Regions from separate parts of the Homo sapiens genome. Here region 2 is linked to region 1. Evidence: fine-mapped expression QTL. A gene starts in region 1. The other region holds a variant in brackets. All regions are shown on one strand. Distances are between the middles of the regions.

Region 1 (5,382 bases):
AAAACAACTCTGATTCATTATACCTTTAAACAACAGATTACTCAAACCAGAGCATTAAGTAAAATGGTTTTGTAAAAACTGTAAATATATGACACTAATAATTCAACATGTATATCACAGTATGAGTGCATATACTTTATGTTAATGAACAGAATTTAAATGAGACGAAGGATAAATGGTGAAGAAATCTTGCCCCCTTCCCTCGTCAACAATTCAGGCAAACCTAAATAAGAGGAGTCACTTATTCCAGTCCCCTTCTCTCAATAAGGAGGAGAGGAAGAGAAACATTCTGCCCCTGGGCGGCATAAAGAACAAACTGTGCTCCTGCAAGCTTCATTCAGTAGCTCTGGACCAAATGAATCAACATGTTTATCTGCTAATACAGCTGAGCTCATTTTAAAGTGTTATGCACTTAAAAGGAAACAAACTTTTTAAAAAACAAAACTAGTAAAAATTAGAAAGTTTTTGTTGTTTTAGCAAATTTAGTTAGGTTTATGAAGACCAAAAATTAACAGAATAAATCTTCTATTTTGTCAAAATGTTTATTCTCAACTGAAGAAGATTTAAGGAAACTCAGGCTCAAAAACATTTGATCTAGGGGTCAAGGACAGTCTGACTTCTTAGTTCTGCCAGCAGTTTTTTAAAGCTGCTTCCTGTACTAGGGAACGTTCACTGTTCTTGCACAAACAATAATAAGTCATTTATACAAACACCTTGGTTATTCTTTCCTTTTAAATTCACTGGTAATAACAAAGGCTACCATCATGATTCTAATAAACATTTTGAGCTTTTACCATTAAATTTCTATTAATTTATTATTTGTGGGGAAACAATTTATTCACTTAACTCAAAAATATGTCTCCAATGCTGCCAATCATGTGCCCGACATTATAGATAAAAGTCAGCAAAAGAGATACAGTCACTGCCCTCCCAGAGCTTCCAGTTTTGCTGACAAGATATTATGGAATTATACATCTATATATATAACCCGGACTATGAAAAGGGAAAAATATACCATGAAAGCAAACAACATGATCTGGCCCTGGGGGTCAGAGGATTCCTTTGGCAGTGATAATTAAGCTGAGATTAGCCTTACAATCACTAAACATGATTTGAAACACACACATTCCAAATCATCCTAGGAGTAGGAATGCTTACAGCTACATGGGGGAGGGGAGAAGAGTTTATAGGAGCCAAGGTAAAATCCATGACTTTAAAAATAAAGGTGAGAGCTTCATGTGTACAACACCAAGAGATCACTTATCTCTGTAGGAAGAAAAGCAATGGCCATTCCTAGCATACTTTCACTCAAAAACAGGTTTCGTAGCTAGAACTATTTTCCAATAATAAAGCCAAACATCAGCTATCAATCTAATAATCTCCAATCATCTCAAGTCCTCCAAACACATTAAAATGAATTTATAACAGTAAATGTATCACAAGCCTCAACACCCCGTATAAACCCAGTAATGAAAAAAGATGTCTTAAGCTTCACATATCACAGGTCATCTAATGTCAGAACAGAAACAAACTTCTAGAAATCATCTTGTAATAAAACACTTTTCACTGTGCAAATCAGGAGTAACACCCGAAGTGAAGCAGCAGCACTTACAATGTCACACATCTAGTTCAGAGTAGAACAGGAGGCTAGAGCATGGACTGCCTGAGTCCACTCTCTATGCTTTTTCTACCAGCATACAGCAGCAAATACATGACAAGAAACACACGTTGCAAATAAATAAGGCAGAATTTTAAGACACAAATTGCATTTCAAAATTTTTATTTTAAAATTTTTTTTACATATTTTTAGGGACAGGGTCTCACTATGTTGCCCAGGCTAGTCTTAAACTCCTGGCACAAGCAGTCCTCCCTCCTCAGCCTCCCAAAGTATTGGGATTACAGGCACAAGCCACCGTGCGTAACTCAAAATTTTTATACATTTTCAACTGACCCACACATGCTGCAGGCTCTAGAAAACAAATGCTCCCTCTTACCACATACCACAGAAGAGTAAAACTGAAAACAACAGCTGGGCACAGTAGCTCACACCTATAATCCCACATGCTATGGGAGGCTGAAGTGAGAGGATCTCTTGAGGCCAGGGGTTCAAGACCAGCCTGGGCAACACAGTGAAACCCTGTATCTATAAAAAAATAAAATTAGCCAGACACAATGGTGCACACCTGTAGCCCTAGCTCCTCAGGAGGCTTAGAAGGGAGGATCCTTTGAGCCCAGGAGATCAAGGCTGCAGTGAGCTATAATCGCACCACTGCACTCTGCACTCCAGCCTCAACAACAGAGCAAAACTGTCTCAAAAAAAAAAAAAAAGGGTGAAGAAAACCGACTATTTATTGACTCCCTAGGGTCTAGGAGCTCGACTGAGTAGCTCATCTACTTTAACATCCATTAATCATCACAACTACCCTCTGATTAGATATTATTCTCATTCTACTGAGACCCAGAAACATTAGAAATTTACTTATGGTTACATAGCAGAAAAATGGTAGAAGTAGGACTTGAATTCAAGTCTAAATCTAAATCCATGTAGCCATTTTACCATTAAAAAGCATTTTTTCTTTTTTTGAGACAGGGTCTCATTCTGTCACCCAGGGTACAGTGCAGTAGCACGATCATGGCTCAGCTCACTGCAGCCTCAACCTCCCAGGCGTAGGTGATCCTCTCGCTTCAGCCTCCCAATTAGCTGGGACTACAGGCGCAAGCCACCATGCCCACCTAATTTTTCTGTATTTTTTGTAGAGATGAGGTTTCACCATGTTGCCCAGGCTGGTCTCAAACTTCTGGACTCAAGCTATTCATCTACCTTGGCCTCCCAAAGTGCTGGGATTACAGGCATAAGCCACTGTACCCAGCTAGTGTTTCTTCATTAAAAAATACTATACAATGTGATTAGGTTTCCCTGGGAACTTACAAATGCCCATTTAATTGCTAATGAAACATATTTTAAAGTTTGGTCTAGGATAACTGCCATTTATAACATTATATCAAAAAGAACTACCAAGTTTTAAACAACTACTTTACAAACAAAATTTGGAACATATTCTTAAGTTAAATGTTATTCATATTTTCTTTTATAACATTCTTTTCAACCCTGCTGTCAGTGCCACCAGAAATGGGTGTTATCTACTCCTATGAAATGTTGGCTCAGACACAAGAAGAAGAGTATAATGCATGACTGCTTAAGAGAACCATAAAAATACAAGAACTACATTTTAATCATTCTGATTTCTCCATTGGTGGACAGCCCATTAACAGCTTCAACTGGGAGAGAGCATACTGCTCAAAAATAAGAACCCAGCAGTCCAAATAGAGCAAAGCACATCATTAATTAAAAGAATACCAGTTTTTGCACAACTACCCACACCATAGGACTTTCTGCTTTCTCAGCTCTGCTAAATTCTGTTACCACTCACGCACCAGGTTCTCAGCTTCCAATATTTAGTTGACGTTGTTTGCCTGCTGTCATCTCTCATCTCGTTCTCTTTACCCTCATGGATTTCTGCTTTTATATGTGTTCACTATCATTTAAGTGGGGAAGGAAATACATGTCTTCTCTGATAATACTGGAGATTTTTAAAGTTTTCTTTTGATCCCTTATGGTATCTGTTTTCTCCCAGTGTTCCAAGTATCACTCCCTCTCCACCTCTCTATGTCTACTTTTTTTTTTTTTTAATGTTGGAGTCTTCCCCCAGATGACCAATGGTGTTAGATTGTTTGCTCATATTTAAGAATAAGCCCCTGAAAAGAACTAACTGAAAGATCTGTGTGGGAAAACAGGGCTTAACGACTGGTAGAATTCACTTAAGGTACTCTCAGCAGAAAGCCTATCAGTATCTGAAGATGCTGTTATCTTCAGTCTTCCACAGGAGAAGGATAGGACAGGCTTGACTGTGCAGTTCTGGAAGGAGAGCAGAGGAAGAGAGCTAACACTTCTATAGTTCAGGCGTAGGTTTCCCTTGATCTCCTTGTTTTTTTTTTTTGTTTTTTTTTTTTGGTTTTTTTTTTTTTGAGACGGAGTCTCGCTCTGTCGCCCAGGCTGGAGTGCAGTGGCGGGATCTCGGCTCACTGCAAGCTCCGCCTCCCGGGTTCACGCCATTCTCCTGCCTCAGCCTCCCAAGTAGCTGGGACTACAGGCGCCCGCCACTACGCCCGGCTAATTTTTTGTATTTTTAGTAGAGACGGGGTTTCACCGTTTTAGCCGGGATGGTCTCGATCTCCTGACCTCGTGATCCACCCGCCTCGGCCTCCCAAAGTGCTGGGATTACAGGCGTGAGCCACCGCGCCCGGCCGATCTCCTTGTTTTAAACCAAGCAACAATCCACGGCCCCTGGTTTCAAAGTCCAGACAGCTCTTCATTAATTTTGCAAAGAATAAACCTTGTTCTCCTGAGGCCAGGGAGTTGGTAGTGAAGGGACTCACCCATCCACAAGGGCACATAGGGAGAAAATCGTAGGGGTCCACCTGTCAGTGTACACAGATTTTCCGACCAGCTCCCCTGTTTTCAGCTCCATTTCTGACCCCTATCTTCCTTAGTATCTGGTGCCTCCAAATGCTGAGACTCTTGGGAGCTTCGGACAAACACAGTACTGCATTTCTTACAGGTATTTTTGTGCACTTACAGGTACTGTGTGATTCCTCTGCAAAGTCAGTCACTACCTGTCCATCTGCTTATTTGAAAGAGGTATAGCAGCTTCTGTCTCCTGTTGTAACCTCTCCCAGTCTCTGATTTCTTTCTTCCATTTAGGCAGGGATTAGGAAATAAGAAGAGATGTACAGGTGTAGCCAATCTGTCACTTTTGGTCAGAAGCCCTGAGAGAGCTCTTTTGAAATCAGCTATCTCAGGATACTGACTTAAGGACTAAATTAGTATTTCTCAAAGTCCGATCACAGACTTGCATTAGAATCCACAAGGATGCTTGTCCACACAGCAGTCTGGGTGATTTTTGCTTTTGCTGTTACATGGAAATCAGATTAAGTCACTCCCCCACTTAAAACTTCCTAATAAGCAGCTTCTCACTCCACTTAAAAGCCAAGGTCTTTCAAAGCCTAAAATAATACGGCCAATGTATGTCTATCTCTGATCCCATTTAATACCATTCTTTCCAGGCACTTTTCTCTACTATTAATATATTCTGACAACACTGGCCTAGACCACCAACCAGTTTATTGCTATCTCAGGGCCTTTGCACATGTTCTTTCCTCTGCTTGTAACGTTCTTCTTCTAGTTCTTGCATGGCCCCTTCTCATTTTTCAGATCTCAGTTCAAAGGTGGACAGACAAAATGTGGTACATCCATATTATGGAGTGTTATTTAGCCTTAAGAAGGAAGGAGATGCGGACATGTGCCACAGCATGGATGAACCT
Region 2 (5,382 bases), 190 kb before region 1:
TGGCTGATTTTGAAAAGAGTCTGCAGTTTTTAATGAAGTTGATCATAACAAATGACACAGAAATTGCATTTCTATGTATTTACCCAAGAAGATTAAAAATATATATTCACACACAGATTTGTACTGGAATATTCACGAGCTTTTATTCTAATAGGCCCAAAATGTAAAGAACCCAAACGTCTATCCAGGGGCAACTATATAAACATATGACTGTACATCACACAACGGAGCAAAGCCATAAAAAGAAACAAACTACTGATATATGGAACAGTATCTATAAATTTTAAAAGTATTATGCTAAGTGAAAAATGGAGAACACAAAAGCCTGTAAGTATGTTTTCAGATTATAGTTTTTGATATTTAAATACTGTTTTGTGTCACTGCCCTCTTTTTCCTCCTCAGGGTTTCCAATTATACATATGTTGCTTCTTCTGTTTTCCCTCCCTTGAAATACCCACTCTGTGGTAAGCCAGCCTTTGTGTAAGAAGTTTGACTACCTTGAAATGGCCATGCTCTGCCATAACCACATGGAAAGGAATCATGTAAATACCCAGATGCCTGGCAGGCCCCTGCAGTTCCAGCCACTTGATCTGAGATTTTAGATTTGTAAGCAAGCATGTTACATGTTGAGGCTTGTAATAACATCTCCTAATAACTAAATTCAATGCATTCAATTACATTTAATGCAGTGAGATACTGGTTTAACCATTCATTTTTTAAAAATGTCTTTGAATTATGAAATTATATACTAAAAATGCTTCCCGACTTTACATTGCCTTTAGATGCTAATGTAAACATTGTAATGCATCCTTCTTGACTTGGGAATTTTGAAAAAGCATTGGGTGAAAAACAAAATTCTGATACAACCTACATAATATATTAATAACTAAAATAGTTAGCAAAGAAATTAGCTTGTCAGACACCTGACAATAAAGATGTTTATATACCTGAAAACTTTGTAAAATTTTAAAAATCATCACTATGAATATGAAATGATAATTAAATTAATTTAAAAATCACCCAGATCACACCTCCGTAAATTAGTAAGGAGAACTAGAATACTGACTACTGGTGCTTTTGTCTTATGTGAATTTAAAATGAGATAATTTTGGTTCACTGATAACAAAATGCCAGCCAAATGAGAAATCTGAATAAGCATGAGAATCTCAAGAATGGCAAGAACCTGAAAGCCGTATTGCAAAAAAATCAAATACATGTTATCAAAGAAATTAATATAGAGTTTACAATGAACTAAGTATGGACAAAAATAGTAGTACATAACTGAAACTGTTAGCTTCATTACAACCTACATAAAGAAAATAGAGGAATGTGAAGAATTTATCAGATGAATAGCATTTCTACACAATGATTTTCCTTTACTCCCCTAATGAATCTTTAACTTCAGGAAACTTCAGACTTGAGAGAGATTTGCAGAGGTCCAACAAATAAGCCTGAAATAAATGAAGCTATGAGTAAGATTTTGGAAACAAGTCCTAAGTAGAGACTTCCTAAACCAAAGAAAACAAAAACACCTCCTTAGTCAATTTTGTCTACTTTATTCTCCCAGGATATTTTTCTGCTTCTCATGTAAATTTAGTAACATTTAAGGAATAAAAAGAGAGCTGCCTGGATATATTAGCAGTGTGATTGGTCATATTATTAGAGAGATTTTACAATCAGTTCTACAAATGCCCCACTGAAATTGCACTGAACTCACTCTTACAACCTTGTTCTACTGGGCTCCAAACCAACCCTTTTACATTCTGTACTACAGCCAAGGTGCATACCTTGTACCAAACCAGAAAAGGAAGAATCCCTGGTAGTCTCCATAGGAACTATTAGATGGCAAATCCAATGGACAATTCTCAGTTATCATTGTACAGTATTTAATATACTCTGTTGTACCTAATCTCTCCTTAACTTCTAAGGCTTCTCTTGTCTGGCTCCTCCTGCCCAGGATCCTCCTTAGGCTTCTCTCTGCCTCTACACCTGTGCACTAGTCTCACTGCATCTACAGCTGTGTCTACAGCATGCCTTACTCTGGCATTTCCAGGCACCATCCTTGGCCACTGATGTTCTAACTGTACATACTTTCCTCACATTGGATATTTCCTCACTTCCTGGGTTTTAA[C/T]ACTGCTCATGATGCCTATTTGTATCTCTGATTTAACTCTCCCCACTCCTTGGCTGCCACACTAGGTGCCTCAAATATAGCATGATCTGCTTAAGAACTCATTCTTCTCCCTGTGTTTTCTATTTTTATAAATACTCCAGTATCCACAATTCCCCAAGCAGCAAACAGGAAATCATATGATACTTCTCTGCATATTTATTCATTAAATCCTGGTGATTCTAATAACTAAATATTACTAGAATTTGCTTCCTTCTAACACTGCTTCAATTAATAATCTTTTTTTTTTTTTTTTTTGAGATGGAGTTTTGCTCTTGTTGCCCAGGCTGGAGCACAATGGTGCAATCTAGGCTCACTGCAATCTCCACCTCCCAGGTTCAAGCAATTCTCCTGCCTCAGCCTCCCAAGTAGCTGGGATTACAGGCATGCGCCACCAGGCCTGGCTAATTTTGTATTTTTAGTACAGACGGGGTTTCTCCATGTTGGTCAGGCTGGTCTCAAACTCCTGGCCTCAGGTGATCCACCCACCTCAGCCTCCCATAGTGCTGAGATTCCAAGCATGAGCCACCACATCCGACAACCTTATCATTTTTATAAGTGAATTACTGAAAACCTTCTAACTGCAGCAACCTCCCAAGTATTTTCCTTGCTTCCACTTTTGTCCTCTCTACTTCAACCTCTATACTGCCAAGTATTCTTTCTAAACATTTCCCCCAAAGAAATTCTTCCATGATGCTCCACTGCCTTCATCTAAATGACTTGAGAGTGAAGATCTGTCTTAATGTGATTCTGACTACCTGTGCAGACTCTCTGGCTTTCCTCTGCAGAACTCTATGCATTATCCACACTGTGCTATATTCGGTGGGTGGGGGAACCTGTCTGCTCCTGTGTACTCTACACATGCCATTTTACCTGTGTAGGAATGCTCTCCTTCCCAACCTTAGTGATATAATGTATAGTTATTCTTACGTCTTAGCCTAGCAACCACTTTTTAAGAAGAGTTTCCTACTCTGGCACCCTTTGCTTTCCTTTCCTCTGCTCCTCAGGTTCATTAAAGTGCTCATTCTCTCCATGCACAGTAACCAGTATTATCAGAGCAACCATGTCACTGCAGTGTATACAAGTATTTTCTCATCTATCTCCCCAGTAAGTCACTCATCAAAGGAAAAATAGTATGTTTTCCTTATTTATGAATCTTCTGAGGTCTAGCCCACAGAAGTTGCTCATTATTTAATAGATGAATGATAATGTACTAGATTATAAAGTTAATCCATAAGGTATCAAAAATAATCAAATCACTCCCAAACATTCCTTAGAACGGTATTACACTGGAGACCAACATACTGTCATCTCTCGACATAGTTAAACCCAGGACAGTTTTCTATCTTTGGTACAATAATATAGTCTTTTTTCTTTTATTTTCTTTAGAGACAGGGTCTCACTCTGTTGCCCACGCTGGAGTGCAGTAGCACAACCATGGCTCACTATAACCCTGAGTTCCTCGGCTCAAGTGAACTTCCCACCTCAGCTTTCCTGATTAATTTACTAGGACTACAGGTACACATCACCATACATGGCTAACTTTTTTTTTTTTTTGACACGGGATCTCACCATGTTCGCCAGGCTGGTCTCAAACTCCTGGCCTCAAGCAATCCTCCTATCTCAGCTGCCCAAAGCACCAGAATTACAGGCATGAGCCACCAGGCCTGGCCAGAAAATAGTTTCTTTAAATGAACACCTGCAGTTACAATGCACTCAATGACATTTTATGTAAGTTTTGTATTTTAAAACACCAGAGTTTATATTCCATGAAGCTCTATGCATGGAAAGTAGGAAGTAACAAGGAGTAAAGAATAGCAAATTTATATCTCTCATCCTAAGGTCACTCTGTAAATACACTCATTGAGAAATTGAGAAAAAGAGCAGAATAATCACATCATTTAAATCAACTTGTCTATCTCAGCTATATCTTATTGAGCCCACTTCTTTGAATTCATATAAATTACATGCAACTATGATGAAATTCCATTGTACCAATACGACCGTAAGAAGTTAGGGCTGATTTTTCACAGCCAACATTTCTTTCACAATTCACTTTCATCAAAAATTTTTAGTGCTCCAAATACAGTCATGCATTACTTAACAACTGGGATATGGCCTGAGAAACTTGCTGGTAGGCAGATATGGTTTGGCTGTGTTCCCACCCAAATCTCATCTTGAACTGTAGTTCCCATAATCCCAATGTGTTGTGGGAGGGATCCACTGGAAGGTAATTGAATCACAGGGCTGGTTATCTCCATGCTGTTCTGCTGATAGTGAGTGAGTTCTGATGAAATCTGATGGTTTTATAAGGGGCTTTTCCTCCTTTGCTTAGCACTTCTCTCTCCTGCTCCTATGTGAAGAAGGACATGTTTGCTTCCCCTTTCACCACGATTGTAGGTTTCCTAAGGTCTCCCCAGCCCTGCAGAACTGAGTCAATTAAACCTCTTTCCTTTATAAATTACCCAGTCTCGGGCAGTTCACAGCAGCATGAGAACAGAGAATGGACTAATACAGTACATTGGTACCACAGAGAGTGTGGTGCTGCTGTAAAGATACCCAAAAATGTAAAAACAGCTTTCCAACCAGGTAACAGGCAAGGCTGGAACAGTATGGAGGGCTCAAAAGAAGACAGAAAAACGTGAGAAAGTTTGGAACTTCCTAGAGACTTGTTGAATAGCTTTGACCAAAATGCTGACAGTGATATGGACAATAAAGTCCAGGCTGAGGTGGCCTCAGATGAAGACGAGGAACTTACTGGTAAGTGGAGTAAAGGTGACTCTTGCTATGCTTTACCAAAGAGAATGGTGGCATTTTGCCCCTGCCCTAGAGATCTAAGGAACTTTGAACTTGAAGGAGATGATTTGGGGGTATCTGGTGGAGGAAATTTCTAAGTGGCAAAGCATTGAAGAGAACGCGGAGAAGAAAAGTTTGCAAAATTTGCAGCCTGACAATACAATAGAAAAGAAAAACCCATTTTGTGGGGAGAAATTCAAGCCCACTGCAAAAGTTGGCATAAGTAACAAGGAGCCAGATGTTAATCACCAAGACAAAGGAGAAAATGTCTTCAGGGCATTTCAGAGACCTTTGCAGCAGCCCCTCCCATCATAGGCCCAGAGGCCTAGGAGGGAAAAACAGTTTTGTGGGCCAGGGCCAGGGCCCAAAAGCAGGGCCCCCCAACCCGGCTCTGTGCAGCCTTGGGACATGGTGCCCTG

Direction of the effects. Positions count from the first base shown, and alleles are read on the strand shown. Sizes are in standard deviations (SD) of each study's normalised expression.
As copies of C replace T in region 2, the expression in thyroid of the gene that starts at base 2,937 in region 1 goes up (moderate effect, 0.75 SD a copy in GTEx).

The links. PIP is the estimated chance that this variant, and not a neighbour inherited with it, causes the effect.
Region 2: its variant is fine-mapped to the expression of AKT3-IT1 in thyroid (GTEx, PIP above 0.99).

Annotation. Positions count from the first base shown.
Region 1 is chr1:243,791,464-243,796,845 of GRCh38, forward strand. AKT3-IT1 (AKT3 intronic transcript 1) reads right to left here and starts at 2,937. Exons shown (of 2, transcript NR_046761.1): 1 at 2,797-2,937; 2 at 1,742-2,117. All of the region lies in intron 2 of AKT3 (AKT serine/threonine kinase 3), which reads right to left.
Region 2 is chr1:243,601,488-243,606,869 of GRCh38, forward strand. The region is part of intron 8 of AKT3 (AKT serine/threonine kinase 3); the gene reads right to left. Among named protein-coding and RNA genes, the nearest start is that of AKT3-IT1, 190 kb to the right of the region's middle. The variant C/T (reference allele first, on the strand shown) is at 2,132.